Regions from separate parts of the Homo sapiens genome. Here region 1 is linked to region 2. The links come from fine-mapping of genetic effects on gene expression. A gene starts in region 2. The other region holds a variant in brackets. All regions are shown on one strand. Distances are from middle to middle. Region 1 overlaps LINC00539 (long intergenic non-protein coding RNA 539). Region 2 holds the start of LINC00539 (long intergenic non-protein coding RNA 539).

Region 1 (2,909 bases), 22 kb before region 2:
GTTGGGGAAGATAAAAATGTTCTGAAGATGGATGGTGTGGATGGTGGTGATGGCTGTGCCATACATAATGTGAAAGTACTTAATGTTCTTGAACTGTGCACTTAAAATGGTTAAATGGTAAATTTTATGTTATGTATATTTTGCTGCAAAAACCCACTTATACAATATAAGGTGACATTATTCCTGATATTTTCTTACCTCTCCCCCTCATACACCCACCCCTACTGCTGTGCATATTCCAGATTTTGATAAACACTTGCTAAACCAATGCTGTCCTCACAGAACATACCCTCCTCTCCTCTTCCTCCCCTGCCCATCTGCATAGACGTGTAGTTGGCCAGCTTACCTGAATAGATCTTTTAAATCAAACCAGTCTAAATATTTGTAATGTGACAAAACATAAAAAGGGATGGAGAAAGCGAGGGAGAGACGGGTGTGCCTCATGCATTCATGGATTTGTATTTATACTCCAATGATCTTGTTATTTTTAAAGTCTGCTAAAGCTGGTTCCACCTGCAGGTTTCTTTTGGTGTCCTAAATCTGTGTGTGCATTCTCCACATGCTTGGAGTCAGCGTACATGAGCTGTTTGTCCCCCAGCTGGCTTTTTGCAGTGGAAGAGGCGCAAACAGAATCCGCAGCACGTAGGACAGGGAGCCTGAAATCCCACGCCGCACAGCACTCAGTGTGTGCAGGAGCTGAGGGAAGCAATAAGACCTAATAACCTCATCCATTCTCCTAATTGCTTTCTTCTCCTCACAGAGGAGCCACATCAGCAGCTCTGGTGACCCTCAGGGAAATCTCTGCTTGTTATGAGGTTGGTGGGCCATCCTTTCATCACTGTGAAATGCTGGCAGTTTGTGTCAACAAATCGAATTTCAGTCAATCAATAGGCACCCCGCCTCTCAGCTTGGCAGAGCTGCACAGCTGGCCTTCCTTCCCTCCCATCTGCTGCCCATGCCCTGGAGCCCTGGCAGCAAGAACCACTGCTGCCCGTGGCGTGGGAGAATGCCCAGGCAGCCAGGTCAGACTGGATGTGGCAGACAGCAATTGACAAGGCTGGTTCCACCACCAGAGAGTCACAGCCCACTGGAAACACACCATGTTGTACAGGGTGGAAGCGCCAGCTTTGTGCAGATGGACTTGGGTACAGGTCTGATTCTGCCACTTTGGGCTGTATGGCCTTGAACTTCAAGGCAAGTTCTTCACCTCTTTGAACTCTACCTTCCTTAGTTATAAAGCGGGGATGCTACTGCTGCCTGCTGCAGGATTGTTAGGAAAAGTGTTATAATGCATGCAAAGTGCTTTGTCCAGTCCCTGGCACACAGTAGAGAGAGAGAGAGAGAGAGAGTGTGTGTGTGTGTATGTCACTGTGATCTGCCAAGTCTTACAAGCCAAATAGGGCAATAAATGGCAACTACTGCGGATTTTACAATCATCATTAGCATCATCATCATTATTATTGTCATGTTGAGTGTTGCACAGAAAACAGCCT[A/G]GAACCAGCCTACGTGGTTCTATCAATGCAGGATGAGAATATTCAGCCTCCAGTTCATGAAGGTTCACTAAGCAGAGATGTACACTGGATGATCACCAGCGTGTACAAAAAATAAATACTATAGTATCTTCATCAGAGGGCTGCCATTGGCCTCAGGAGGGCATTCCCAGGTAGAAGTGCCTCAGGAGGTTTGTTCTGTTGCCTGGCCCAACATCCTATAGGGAAGGAGCCCAATAGTGGCTCCTTGAAATTTCTGCATTCTCTGGAAGCCAGAAAAAGCAAAGACCTCCTGGCAATTGAGTTCTCTTGCTTGTAGGGGAGATCACAGCTTCGTAGATAGACGGCTGTTTCCCTTTGGGTGATAGAGGTCCCTGCTGGGCAACAAAGAATTAAACACAAATCTATTTCTTGCCAGTAGTTGTCACACCTAATAGATTGGGATGAGATACCACTGCATTAGTGTGTGAATTTCCCCAGATGAAGGCAGCAGCAAAGCCCTTTAGAACAAGCCACAGAAGGACAGAAACAAACTAATCAGGGAATGCACAGCTTCACACAAGATCCAGGGGCTTCTGACATGGGAGGAACACAAAAGTTTTAACTAACCAAGGATGCAAACATTCCCCCAGCAAGAAATGGTTAGAAGTATCTTGGAGTGCATTTTGTGGTCGCTGTTACTGCTGCTGCTGTTTTGTATAATAGGGAAGGAAAAGAGAATAATTAGAGGTGAGATTTTCAGACACAGAATGCCCTAGTATTTATTGAGTTTCCACTCTGAGGCAGGCACTGTGAGAAGCCCTTCCACATTTATTATTTCATTGCATTTGTCATAATAACCCTGCATGGCAGGAATATTTACCCTTTTTGTCCAATGTGGATGCTGAGGCCCAGATAGAACCCAAAAAGCTCTGGGACCTGGCATAGACCAGGTGCTAGGTAACAAGAGATTGGCAGAGCCTTGCCCAGGGTCACAAATCAAGAGGAGAGATTCAAATGCAGATCCTAAAACTCCAGACCACCCCTCTTTTCTCTCTCCCTACCTGCTTGCTCAGTGCAGGAGACTGGGAGGGCCCTGAGCCAGGATGGGTTTAGACTCATGGAAGAAAATTCCATGGGGGAAAAATGTTTTTTCCATGAGAATCTGCTCTCATATAGCAGCCACACTTCTCCATACAGCCCAGAGACAGATCCTTCTAACATTCAAGCTAGTCTTAGGTCTTTGGGGGAGAGATTCAAAGATTCTGAATTAAAAAAAAAAATTAGACCCCCAGAACAGTAGAATACGATTCATGTCTGTTATGAATTACAGTTGGGTCTTTATCGTGCAGCAAGGGGTCCTCAATGGTGCCTACATCCTTTCTGAAATTGATCTTATTGGGATAACATGGCCAAAAAGGAAAACAAAAGCAAATAGTC
Region 2 (2,909 bases):
TCTTGGCCCAAGATTTGCTTGGCCCAGGGGCCTGGACGCTTGATCTCATAGATGGTCTGTCCATGTAGCTTGCAACACTCAAGAAGTCCCTCTCCAGTGAGGGAGCTCTGAACCCTGGCAGTGAGGCCTCTCAGTGAGGGGGCTTCTGAGCCCTGGCAGTGAGAAGCTCTCTGTGACCAGGGGACCCACCCTGCAACCTCCCCACCATTCCATAGCTGCCAGCACCTGTGCCCACTTCGAAGCTTAACCCTGAATGATAAGAGAGACCAGGAGCCAACAGCTTTACGTACGTTACTAATGAGCCTCAGAACAAACTCACAAAAAAATCTTATTCCTACTTCACAAACAAGAAGTTGAGGATCAGAGAGGTTAACTCAAATGACAAAGTCACACAGCTTTTAAGTCCCCTGCTCTTGGCACCAGACTCAGCAGCTTTGATGTGTTTGTTCTCTTCCTCCCTGTTTTTATTGAGGGCTTCTGAGGTGCCCTCCTTCTCCATCTCCTCCCTTCTCCTTCTTCTCCTCCTCCCCCTCCCCCCCGCCTCCTCCTCCTCTTCCTTCTTCTTCTCCTCTCCCTCTCCTCCTCCTTCTCCTTCTCCTCCTTCTCCTTCTCCTTTCTCTTTTTTAAATTTAAGAGATGGGGTCCCACTCTGTCACCCAAGCTGGAGTGCAATGGAATGATCACAGCTCACTGCAGCCTCAACCTCCCAGGCTCAAGCAGTCCTCCCACCTCAGCCTCCAGAGTAGCTGGGAATATAGGCACACCTCACTACACCTAGCTAATTTTTAAATTTTTTTGTAGAGACAGGGTCTTTCTGTGTTGCCCAAGCTGGTCTTGAACTCCTGGGTTCAAGTGATCTGCTCCCCCTCAGCCTCCCAAAGTGCTAGGATTACAGGACTGAGCCACCATGCCCGGCCAAGTCACCCTTCTTGAACTTTGATTCACCAAGCTCTTCAGTCCAATTTTACACAAGTGTGAACTCAGGTGTGTGCTTGTGATTCTTTGTTCACACACAGCCAAGTTGGCACAAGAAGGTGAAACAGAGAAAGGCCTCAGTGTTTTTGGCCAAGCCCACAGAAGGCCACCTAAGCAGGCTGGATGCTGCCCAGGGCTGGGCCACAGCGTGTCCTTTGTAAGTCAGCCATCCCAGCCCCCGAACCCCACACACACACAAAGACACACACTTACCCCAGGAGCAGCCCCACAGTGCAAAGGAGCCCACACAGCGGCTAATGGCTGCTCAGGTTTGTGTGATCTGTCTGGGTTCAGGCACAACCTCCAGGGGCCTCTGGCCCAGGTTGCATCTTTCCTGCAGAGCAGAAAAAGCACAGTTAAGAAAACCCCAAGAAGGCAGTCAGTTTCCTCCCTTGAGTTTCTGGGGTGGACTTCCGGCAGAGTTTTTGGAGGACTGACTGTTGCAGTTAAACAATGTGTCTGGCAAGAAGCGAGACTTCCTCCCTTCCTGCTGCCTGGCTCATGGGGCTGCAGCCTCCTTCTGGAGGTGGCAAGAAAGAACTGTGGAGTCCGCGATCTAAGGGATCCCTGGCAGCCCACGGCAGCCAGAGAACCACATCCGCTGGAGAACTCTAGGTTCTCTACGGCCTCTTGTTACTGCCAGTGCTTGTGTGGCTTGAGGTGGGTAATGCGGCAGCCTCCTGCAGCTAGCCCAGGACTGGGCAGCATGGGGCCAGGTAGTTAGTGTAGGAGAGTGAGCCCAAGCTTGGAAAGCAAGACTTGGCTCTGTCACTGGGCAACCGGGCAACCTTTTTTTGGTTTGGTTTTGTTTTGTTGTTTTTGAGACAGAGTCTTGCTCTATTGCCCAGGCTGGAGTGCAGTGGCATGCTCAAGTCCTGCCTCCCTGGTTCAAGCGATTCTCCTGCCTCAGCCTCCTGAGTAGCTGGGACTACGGGCATGTGCCACCACGCCTGGCTGATTTTTATATTTTTTATTGACGGGGTTTTGTCATGTTGGCCAGGCTGTCCTCAAACTCCTCCCCTCAAGTAATCTGCCCTCCTCGGCCTCCCAAGTGCTGGGATTACAGGCATGAGCCACTGCGCCCAGCCTGGGCAACCTTGAAGAAGTTACTTAGCTTCTCTGAGCCTCAGTTTCCTCATCTGTATAATGGAAGCAATAGTGTCCGTTTTGCAGGGCTAGTATGCCTGGTAAATGAGAATCCTCATAAGAGCCTAGAAATAATAGTGTCATAATGCAGGTGGTTCTACTATTACCAGTGACTAGTATTTGTTGAACACTGACCATAGACTAAGTTTTGTACTGAGCGTTTTATATTTATTGTCCCATTTAGTCCTCCAAAAAATCTAATGAGATATGACCATCCCCAGCTTACAAATAAGAAAACTGAAACTCAAAAAGACCAGCAAGTGACCCCAGAGAACTGCACAAGGATCTGCAGAGAGTGAGCAACAGGAGCCGAAGCCGTGGGCTCATACCAGGCTCTCTTCCTGCCTCTTAAGCCCATGGCACATTTGGAGGGTGCTACCTGAATTGAATGGGTGTGCCTGTTGTTTTGAAGTTGGGGTCTACGGCCATACCACCCTGAACGTGCCGGATCTCGTCTGAAGTTGAGGATAGGCATCATCTTTCACTTCAAAATGAAGAAACGGAGGCATTGGGAGGTTAAGTCACACATAGCCAGCAAGTGGCAGAGAGTGAAAGGAACCAGCATTGATGAGCGCCTACTGTATGCCAAACACTGTGCTTACTTCAAGATCCTGTGATCTGCTGGGTGGTTTTGGAGATGTTGGAGTTTCATTGACTTCCTACACTGCCCTGAAGAGGTCTTATTAGTATTAGCCCCATTTTACAGAGAAGGGAACTGAAGCTCCGTGCATGTAATTAGACTCCGAAGGCTGTTGATGGATGGGGAAGGAGAGGGTCCCTCTCTGCTT

What was found. PIP is the estimated chance that this variant, and not a neighbour inherited with it, causes the effect. A credible set is the group of variants that fine-mapping cannot tell apart.
Region 1: its variant is the best candidate, but not a certain one, in a credible set for the expression of LINC00539 in whole blood (TOPMed, PIP 0.65).

What each region holds. Positions count from the first base shown.
Region 1 is chr13:21,321,836-21,324,744 of GRCh38, forward strand. All of the region lies in intron 2 of LINC00539 (long intergenic non-protein coding RNA 539), which reads right to left. It also overlaps the pseudogene MIPEPP3 and the pseudogene GRK6P1. Among named protein-coding and RNA genes, the nearest start is that of LINC00539, 22 kb to the right of the region's middle. The variant A/G (reference allele first, on the strand shown) is at 1,494.
Region 2 is chr13:21,343,478-21,346,386 of GRCh38, forward strand. LINC00539 (long intergenic non-protein coding RNA 539) reads right to left here and starts at 1,382. Exons shown (of 3, transcript NR_103841.1): 1 at 1,189-1,382. It also overlaps the pseudogene MIPEPP3.